Linked DNA regions of Homo sapiens: region 1 is linked to region 2. The links come from fine-mapping of genetic effects on gene expression. A gene starts in region 2. The other region holds a variant in brackets. All regions are shown on one strand. Distances are between the middles of the regions. Region 1 overlaps ZIK1 (zinc finger protein interacting with K protein 1). Region 2 holds the start of VN1R1 (vomeronasal 1 receptor 1).

Region 1 (5,382 bases), 130 kb after region 2:
TGGATTCTGGGTCAGAATTTTAATTAGGCCTGCTTGCATTTTCAGATTTTGAGGGTAAGAGATACTGGTCAAGCATTACTCCAGGCATTTTGAATTTAGCATCTGGAAGGATGGAATCTCCATCAAATAGCATGTTATAGGATTGATTTTATTTTTATTTTATTTATTTATTTGTCTATTTTTAGACAGTCTCACTCTGTCACTCAGGCTGGAGTGCAGTGGCTCGATCTTGGCTCTTTGCAACCTCCACCTCCCGGGTTCAAGCAATCCTCCTGCCTCAGCCTCCTGAGTAGTTGGGACTACAGGCACATGCTACCGTGCTACCATGCCCAGCGAATTTTTTTTTTTTTTTTTTTTTGTATCTTTAGTAGAGACAGGGTTTCACCATGTTGGCCAGGCTGGTCTCAAACTCCTGACCTCAGGTGATCCACCTGTCTTGGCCTCCCAAAGTGCTGGGATTACAGGCGTGAGCCACCATGCCCAGCCAATTAATTTTCATTAAGGATAACAGGAGTTTTGTCTTTAGCTATTATCATAGTCTGAGATATTCCAAAGAATGATATATGGAGACATCAGGTGAGTAGCTGTCCATGTACATCTAGAATTCTGGAAGTGGTTTAAGATGGAGAAATCCAAAAGGTGGTGGCCAGTGTTTGGCCCAGAGTAGCTATGGGTCACAATTAGGAGTGGGTAATCCTGGTCTTGAAGATAATGCTATTTATAATGCAGGAAAGGGCTGGGTGTGGTGGCTCACACCTGTAATCCCAGCACTTTGGGCGGCCGAGGCAGGCGGATCACTTGAGGTCAGGAGTTCTAGACCAGCTTGGCCAACATGGTGAAACTCCGTCTCCACTAAAAATACAAAAATTAGCCAGGCGTGGTGGCAGGCACCTGTAATCCCAGCTACTAGGGAGGCTGAGGCAGGAGAATTGCTTGAGCCCAGGAGGCGGAGGTTGCAGTGAGCCAAGATCACGCCACTGCACTCCAGCCTGGGTGACAGAGTGAGACTCCATCTCAAAAACAAAACAAAAAAACAGAAAAGGGAAGGTTGGGGCTATGACTGTGTCTCATGCTTGGACACGTGGTAGAGGTGGTGAGCATCACAAACAGTTGTGAGAGAAAAGTGGTCATGGGAAGATTGTAGGAAAGAGGATGATCTGGTGTATCAGTCCATTTTCACACTGCTGATAAAGACAGCAAGTCTCTAGGAAGTTCCAGACTTTCCCATATTTTCCTGTCTTCTTCTGAGCCCTCCAAACTGTTCCAACCTCTGCCTGTTCCCCAATTCCAAAATTGCTTCCACATTTTCAGTTATCTTTACAGCACAGCCCCACTTTACTCATACTGATTTACTGTATTAGTCCATTTTCATGCTGCTGATAAAGATGTGCTGGAGACTAGATAATTTGTAAGGAAAAAGAGGTTTAATGGACTCATGATTCCGCGTGGCTGGGGAGGCCTCACAATCATGGTGGAGGGTGAAAGGCATGTCTTGCATGGCAGCAGACAAGAGAGAACTTGTTCAGGGGAACTCCCCCCTTATAAAACCATCAAATCTTGTGAGACTTATTTACTATCATGAGAACAGCATGGGAAAGGCCTGCCCCTATGGTTCGATTACCTCTCACCAGGTCCCTCCCATGACATGGGAATTGTGGGAACTACAATTCAAGAAGAGATTTGGGTGGGGACGCAGCCAAATCATATCATCTGATAAGTGGTCAAGGCTTCCAAGGCATTAGGGACATAAGACAGACATGGAGATAAAGAAATAATTGGTAGAAGATGACACTGAGGCCAGGTACAGTGGACTGTGTCCCCGCAAAATTCATATGCTTAAAGCCTAATTCCAGTGTGATGGTATTTGGAGGTTGGGCCTTTGGGAGATAATTAGGTCATGAGGGTGGAGCCCTAATGAATGGGATTAGTGAGTGCTCTTAAACAAAGAGGCCAGAGAGCTACTATCTAGTGCTCTTTCCAACAAGTGAGGATACAAGAAGTCAGCAGTCTGCAACCTGGAAAGAGTCCCTACCAGAACCTGACCATGCTGGCACTCTGATCTCAGGCTTCCTGCCTGCAGATCTGTGAGAAATAAATTTCTGTTGTTGATAAGCCACCCAGTTTGTGGTATTATGCTAGCAGGCCAAACTGACTAAAACACTAGGACTAGTGCTTATTCACCATGGTAAAAACTCGCCAGGAATTTGTTGTGACCCTTGGTGAGTCTGGGGAGGGTGTGAGTCAAGCAGTTGAATAAGTTTAGGAGTACAAGTGTTCATCTGTATGAGTCATTAGGTTGGAGGTAGAGAGCCACTGAGAGTCTGTGCCACTGAGGCCACTGATTTTGAATGAGGGTTAAGAGGTGAGAAGAAGGTTGTTGATTGAAGAGGGGACATCAAGTGCAGCACAAGTGGAGGACGGCCATCGGTGTCTGACATCAGGTGATTCTTGGTGGCTGAGGTTGAAGCAAGGAACAGAGTCAGGAAGATAGCCCTTCAGAGCAGGGTGGGGGCTGTCTATGACAGTAGGAACCATCAGAGGTCTGTGTAGCACTGGATGATGTCTCAATTTGGCAGGCAGAGGGGTGGAGGTAGCCGTGGGAGTGAGACTGAGCGAGTATGGTTCAAAGAATGATGTGTACATGGAGAGGGAGTGTGAACTGAAGGACCCAGGCCCCTGGCATTGAGGACTTAAGGGTCAAAGGTGAAGCCACATTTGATTGTGTCTAGGAGGCACTATCTGAAAGACCCTTGGGGAACTGCCTGACAAGAAGGGATACACTCCTACATACCGGGCCCAAAGTTTAGATGTGGTGCATCCTGCCCACCTCCTGGTTGGTGCTGTAGAAGGATACAGTGATCATTGGGACCATGAAAAGAGAGTGGGCATCTGTGTCACCAGGGCCTGTATTTCCTTAAGGTGGGGATGATTGCGTGGGTGGATGAACTTGTGGAGGCGTTGATTGTGGAGTGACCTGTCCCCATCATGACAGGGCTGTGTGACCTTTGAGGACATCGCCATTTACTTCTCACAGGACGAGTGGGGACTTCTTGATGAGGCTCAGAGACTCCTGTACCTTGAAGTGATGCTGGAGAACTTTGCCCTTGTAGCCTCACTGGGTAAGGCCCTAATACCAACTCCAGTGTCCTGGTCTGTCTATGGTCTTTTGCTGACTTCTC[C/T]ACTTTCTTGGGATATGTGCTATGGGATCCAGCACTGTGCACTGCCTGAGTAGCCCTAACACCTGCTGCCCAGTGGTCTGGGAACACCTGCTGCCCAGTGGTCTGGGAACACCTGCCACTGGGCAGCAGGTGTTCTTCAGTCAGCCAAATGGATCTCTGTTCCTTGCTCTCTTCTTGGCTGGGTGTCTGTGTTCAGATCCATGACACCTTGTGTCCCAAGTTCCCTGCACCCCCATCTGCTAGCTGACATTTTCTTGTGGCTACCTGTGTCATGATTGTAGTCATTGTCATTGTCTATACTTATGGGGACAATGGGCTCTTCTTACTCACTCCTTCTAGTTTGTTTGTTTGTTTGTTTGTTTAATGATATTAACTTTCTTGCCCATGGGCTGTTGTGTGCTGAGTCGTTCTGCATCAGTGCTGATCACTCACATGTTCTGTCTTTCTGGTAGGACTTGGCTTCATGAAGGTCCCACATAGCTAGACAACTGAGGGTGTGCAGAGAAACCTGGTTGCTTTATAGGGTGAACATGGTCTCAGAGAAGGCCTGGGCTTGTTGAGTGGCAACTGGTTGGGGGCATGATATCCGGGCTGTTTTCCGATCACATAAGGAGCCTGTCCTGTCTTCACCACTGTTTGGGTGCACATGCCACTGGCCAAATCTCATTTCTATATTTTCTTCTCAGTACTTGACACTTCTCTCTCTTATTATTTTTATCTATGACTTCTAGCACCTGGCTACCTCCACCTTTCTGATCTTCATGCATCATCTGCTTCTCTGCACTGCTCCCTCTGCAATGTTTTCCAACATTGACACACACATAATGTCTCATGAAGTATGTATATATGACCACATGAAGATATGTGATCATATCACTTGCTACTCAGTTTCAATTGTATTTTCCTGGGCTTGGGCACAGTCAACCTTCTGCACAGCATGCAGGTGTCACCAGCAGACAAGGTCCTCCTGAAGACTATGTGGTGAGTTTTAGGAATTGGAAGGCTACTCAAGGATAATTTTTGAGGCTGTTGGTAGAGGAATGGTTTGAAGGCAATGCCATTCCCTGTCCTTCATCCCATCCTTGTGTCCTTTATTTGGTGAGGCCTCCCTCATTCTGTGATCTTTAGAGATCCAGTATTGCAAAGCAACCCCTTCCTCAACTTGCCCCCAGCTCCATTATCCTCAAAACAAACCTGGTGAATCATTCGTTTGGTATGTGTGTAATGGGGCTTCTTGCTCTCAGCATAGTCAATGTATATTTCATCAGCGGTTCTCTGCTTTCAGGTTGTGGCCATGGAACAGAGGATGAAGAGACACCTTCTGACCAGAATGTTTCTGTAGGAGTGTCACAGTCAAAGGCAGGTTCATCCACACAGAAGACTCAATCCTGTGAGATGTGTGTCCCAGTCCTGAAAGATATTTTGCATCTAGCTGATCTCCCTGGGCAGAAACCATACTTGGTTGGAGAATGTACAAACCATCACCAGCACCAGAAGCATCACAGTGCAAAGAAATCCTTGAAGAGGGACATGGACAGAGCCTCATATGTGAAGTGCTGCCTATTCTGTATGTCATTGAAGCCCTTTCGCAAATGGGAGGTTGGAAAGGACCTTCCAGCCATGTTGCGGCTTCTGAGGTCCCTGGTCTTTCCTGGAGGCAAGAAACCCGGCACAATTACTGAATGTGGGGAGGACATTCGCAGTCAAAAAAGTCATTACAAGTCAGGTGAATGTGGGAAGGCTTCCAGGCACAAACACACTCCTGTTTACCATCCAAGAGTCTACACTGGAAAAAAGCTTTATGAGTGTAGCAAATGTGGGAAAGCCTTCCGTGGCAAGTACTCACTTGTTCAGCACCAGAGAGTCCATACTGGAGAAAGGCCTTGGGAGTGCAATGAATGTGGAAAATTCTTTAGCCAAACCTCCCACCTGAATGATCATCGGAGAATCCACACCGGAGAAAGGCCTTATGAGTGCAGCGAATGTGGAAAATTATTTAGACAAAACTCCAGCCTTGTTGACCACCAGAAAATACACACTGGAGCAAGGCCTTATGAGTGTAGCCAGTGTGGGAAATCCTTTAGCCAAAAAGCCACCCTTGTTAAACACCAAAGAGTTCACACTGGAGAAAGGCCTTATAAGTGTGGTGAATGTGGGAATTCCTTTAGTCAAAGTGCCATTCTTAATCAACACCGAAGAATTC
Region 2 (5,382 bases):
TCTCCCTCCGTCACCCAAGCTGGTAAGTAATTCTCGTGCTTCACCCTCTGGAGTAGCTGGGACTACAGGTGTGTGCCACATGGTTGGCTAATTTTTGTATTTGAGACAGGGTTTTTGCCATGTTGGCCAGGCTGGTCTCGAACTCCTGGCCTCAAGTCATCTTGAGTGGATCACTTGAGGCATTTGGGAGTGCCTCAGCCTCCCAAAACGGTGGGATTACAGGCGTGAGCCACTGTGCCCGGCCTGCACATGTCTTTCTTACATGTGGACTCTCCAGGGGATTTATGCTGTTCAAGAAGCACCTGAATCAAACTGTGCTTTAAAAATATTTTTAAAACATTCCATGATTCTTCATAGTACAAAAATGAGAAATCTCCCCTAAATCTCTAAAGAATTCCCTTTTTAAACTTTTTGATTTCCTGAACTTGTCTGAAGGACTTAACACAGTTATATAGAGTGTTCTTTGTGTAACAGTATCCATGACTTTCATTTTTAGCTCTGGTATTAGATCTTCCTGGACAAGAGCATTACTGGCCATGTGTATGTTGCTATCACAAATAACTAGTAGTTAATATTTCCTAAATCTTAGCAAGAGTTATGATAAATAGCTGAATTCCATGAAGAGAAAAGACTCATGGCATGACAACCAGATTAGGAAAGAGTGTTTTCCTTGTCCTGCAGGCAAAACAGAACTGAGAGATATGAGTATCACTCATGATGAGGACAAAAGGGCTGCGTGCTGGGAAACATGAGGCGACCAACACAGAGTTGGTCACTATCCACTGGCCTGGGTTTGCAACTACAGTTGTCCAAATTGTCAGAAAACTATGGACTGAATAGAAAACAAAAAAGGAGCTCACCAGGACCATGATGGTGTGTGTGGCTCTGGCTTCCTGGGAAGGTCTGCAGGAGAGTCTGTTGCTGTGATTGTGTTGGACTTGCTGCTTGTGTCTGTAGAGGAAGAAGACCATGGAGCCACTGGCCCAGACCATGAAGCCCAAACTCATAAAATCAGGGGAAAAATATAAGACTGCATGTAATGAGCTAAATCTCTTTGATGCTTTGTAAGAACAGTATCCATAATTGTTTTTTGCACTACTGTTTTTGCTATTCAGTGGGCCATTCACTAATAGAAGAACAGATGCATTCATCAAGACATGGGGGGCCCAGCAGAGGAGACAACAGAAGTCAATAAACCTTGGGGATCTAATCTTGATCTCCATCCACCTGCATATACTGGGGTTGAGCTTAATGGCTTGGAATCCATTGAGAAGGCAGATGGTGCTGAGGGAAACTCTTGTGCCCACCCTGTGATAATAAAAGACAAACTTACATCCAGTGTCATTCAGCAAATATTTCAATCCAAAAGCTGCCATTGTCTGAGGTATCCCTTTAAAGAAAAGGACCATGGAGTTAGCCAAGGCCAGTTGGCTGAGAATCAAGTCCGTGGGTCTCAGCTTGTGTCCAGTGAACAAAATTAAGTTATAAAAACAAAGGAGAAAGGAATTTCCCAGGATCCCAACTCCAGTCTGAATGAGGAAGCTAATCCCTGATTTTACTTTTCCAAAAGCCATTTCATCAAAATCTAGGGGATGTTGATTTTCATTGAGGTCTGAAGAATCAGTAGAATAAAAAAGCAGAAAGAAGTATCTTGTCATCAGTGGAGACAGAAGTTTTAATGTGTCTCCAACCATATTTTCTCATCTTAAACAGAAATTAAGATTGTCCCTGTTCGTGCAAAGGCAATTGCTTGTGTGTCCAACTGCAGAGAAGCAGGTGAATGAATGAGGGCTCAACCGCACAACAGATCCACAAATCAAACCTATAAAACTCAGGGCTTACACACATGCAACAAGTAAATACAAGCAAAACTAGGGAAATATATAAAAACAGAACACAGAAGAGTCAATATCATTAGAGTGATATTATACTATAGTTTGCAAAATGTAATCATGACGGAACCCTGGGTAATATGGACAGGGCTTTTTCTGTATTATTTCTTATGACTGCTTGTGAGTCTACACTTATTTCAATAAAACCTTCAATTAAGTAGCCTGGAGATATGAAAAGCAAAAATAATACACCATAAAACCTTTTCCACACTAATATTTTAGTAAACACCATTGTTATTGATGCATTGAAACAAATTTTAGGCCGGGTGCAGTGGCTCACACCTGTAATTCCAGCACTTCGGGAGGCCAAGATGGAGACCATCCTGGCCAACATGGTGAAACCCTGTCTCTACTAATAATACAAAATACTAATAATACAAAAATTAGCCGGGCATGGCGGCGCGTGCTAGTCCCAGCTACTCGGGAGGCTGAGGCAGGAGAATCGCTTGAACCTGGGAGGCAGAGGTTGCAGTGAGCTGAAATCAAACCATTGCCCTCCAGCCTGGGCGACAGAGCGAGACTCTGTCTCAAAAAAAAAAAAAAAAGAAATTAAAAAAACGCTACAATACAATTGGTAACAAGGCCTTCAGCACAGTACAAATGCTAACTTGAAGAATTTTTAAAAACTATAATTTTTGGAACAATCAACATTGCATCATGGTATATTTTATTTTAAGCACATATATTTCTGTTATTTTCCACCGGACAGGTCTAGAGATTGTGAATTGACTCCGTAGAAATAACCATGACCACCTTGAGCCCACACATTTTTATCTCAATGCCATTTCTCACAAGTAAATGCAAAAGATCCTGAAAATAAATACTAATCCCAGAAACACCTAAGATATCCTTAAAACTTGTTAAATAGGAAATTCAATATGTTCCAGAAAGCTTGGGTTTATTTTTAGGGAAAGATAATTCAATTGGGAGGGAATTTCATTGCACAATATTCATATATATCAATCACAAAAGAAATAGTAACTGCGGCCAGGCACGGTGGCTCACGCTTGTAATCTCAGCACTTTGGGAGGCTGAGGCGGGTGGATTACAAGGTCAGGAGATGGAGACCATCCTGGCCAACATGGTGAAACCCCGTCTCTACTAAAAATACAAAAATTAGCTGGGTGTTGTGGTGCGTGCCTGTAGTCCCAGCTACTCGGGAGGCTGAAGCCTCCTGGGTTCACGCCATTCTCCTGCCTCAGCCTCCTGAGTAGCTGGGACTACAGGCGCCCACCACCACGCCCGGCTAGTGTGTGTGTGTGTGTGTGTGTGTGTGTGTGTGTGTTTAGTAGAGACGGGGTTGCACCGTGTTAGCCAGGATGGTCTCGATCTCCTGACCTCGTGATCCGCCCGCCTCGGCCTCCCAAAGTGCTGGGATTACAGGGATGAGCCACCTCGCCCGGCCATAATTTAGATTCTTTTGGTGTCTCTATGGAATTGCTATCATCAGGGAAAATTATGAGGTATTTTCTCCCATGAATAACTACATCTCTTTAGGGGTGGAGCAATCAATAACACAGCAGTATCAAGATTCTCAGGCGAGAGGTGGCTCACGCCTGTAATCCCAGCAGTTTGGGAGGCCGAGGCTGGTGGATCAGCTGAGGTCGGGAGTTCGAGACCAGCCTGACCAACAGGGAGAAACCCCGTCTCTACTAAAAATACAAAAATTAGTCAGAGGTGGTGGCGCATGCCTGTAATCCCAGCTACTCGGGAGGCTGAGGCAGGAGAATCGTTTGAACCCCAGAGGCGGAGGTTGCAGTGAGCCGAGATCATGCCATTGCACTCCAGCCTGAGCAACAAGAGTGAAACTCGGTCTCAAAAAAAAAAAAAAAAAACTCAGGCTCTGAGGTATGAAAACCTTTTAGATTCCCACAAACCACTTGTTGACAAATGTTTTTCCTATTTATATGAACTCATCATTTATTTTCAAGATAGTTCCTGATTCTTTGCTTTAATCTCTTATTTTGCTCCATTGTCCTAGTTGTATAATTTATTTCCAATATGCATTTGGTTTCCTATTTTTTCAGCTTCTCCTTATAAAGTACCATTTTTACTATGACTATTTTGAAAGCTTCTTGTATGTATAAAGTTAGTGTGATTATTGACTTTAACATACCACCTCCTTCTCCTCCTAGCCTCAGAAAGAAGTGTTGGTAACTGGTGAGAATTTTCAGACAGATTTTCCTTTTTTTTTTTAATTTAATTTAATTTTTTTTTCTTTCTTTGCTTTCTTTTTTTTTTTTTTTTGAGACAGAGTCTCACTCTGTTGCCCAGGCTAGAGTGCAGTGGCGCTATCTCGGCTCACTGCAAACTCCACCTCCCACGTTCAAGCGATTCACCTGCCTCAGCCTCCTGAGTATCTGGGATTACAGGCGCCTGCCACTGCGCCTGGCTAAATTTTTTTTGTATTTTTAGTAGAGATGGGGTTTCACCATGTTGGCCCGGCTGGTCTCGAATTCCTGACCTCGTGATCCACCCACCTTGGCCTCCCAAAGTGCTGGGATTACAGGCGTGAGCCACCGCGCCAATTTAATTTAATTTTTTAAAGTTCCAGGATACAGGTGCCGGATGTGTAGGTTTGTTACATAGGTAAACGTGTGCCATGGTGGTTTGCTGCACCTATCAACCCGTCACCTAGGTATTAAGCTCAGCATGCGTTAGCTATTTATCCTGATGTGCTCCATCCCCCGACCCCTTTGACATATTCCAGTGTGTGTTGTTCCCCTCCCTGTCTCCATGTGTTCTCATCGCTCAACTCTCACTTATAAGTGAGAACATTTGGTGTTTGGTTTTCTGTTTCTGTGTTAGTTTTCTGAGGATAATGGCTTCCAGCTCCATCCATATCCCTGCAAAGGACGTGATCTCATTCTTTTTATGGCTGCATAGTATTCCATGGTGTATATGTACCACATTTTCTTTATCACTGATGGGCATTTGGGTTGATTCCATTTCTTTGCTATTGTGAATAGTGCTGCAATGAACATATACATGCATGTATCCTTATAACAGAATGATAATAATAGAATGATTTATATTCCTTTGGATATATACACAGTAATGGGATTGCTGGGTCAAATGGTATTTCTGGTTTTAGGTCTTTGAGGAATTGCTACACTGTCTTCCACAATGGTTGAACTAATTTACCTTCCCACCAACAGTGGAAAAGCATTCCTATTTCTCCACCACCTTGCCAGCATCTGTTGTTTCTTGACGTTTTAATAACAGCCCACTGAACAGCAAAAACCTTAGTGTGAAAAACAATTATGGAGTCTGCTCCTGGGCAATGCAAGAAATATTTGGCACCTTATATACAATTATATACTTTTCTCCTGACTTTTTGAGTTTTGGCTTCTTGGTGTGGGTCAGTGGCTCCATAGTCTTTGTCCTATACAGACACAAGCAGCAAGTCCAACACATTTGTAGCAAGAGACTCTCCTCAAATCAGTATAAGTAAAATTAGGAAAATATTAAGATGATAGTGAGGGCCGGG

The links. PIP is the estimated chance that this variant, and not a neighbour inherited with it, causes the effect.
Region 1: its variant is fine-mapped to the expression of VN1R1 in thyroid (GTEx, PIP above 0.99).

The regions. Positions count from the first base shown.
Region 1 is chr19:57,585,547-57,590,928 of GRCh38, forward strand. ZIK1 (zinc finger protein interacting with K protein 1) reads left to right here. Exons shown (of 4, transcript NM_001010879.4): 3 at 2,993-3,119; 4 at 4,465-5,382. Among named protein-coding and RNA genes, the nearest start is that of ZIK1, 4.1 kb to the left of the region's middle. The variant C/T (reference allele first, on the strand shown) is at 3,180.
Region 2 is chr19:57,454,793-57,460,174 of GRCh38, forward strand. It overlaps VN1R1 (vomeronasal 1 receptor 1), which reads right to left and starts at 2,348. Exons shown (of 1, transcript NM_020633.4): 1 at 1-2,348. The coding sequence starts at 1,694. The coding sequence ends at 633. It also overlaps the pseudogene VN1R107P.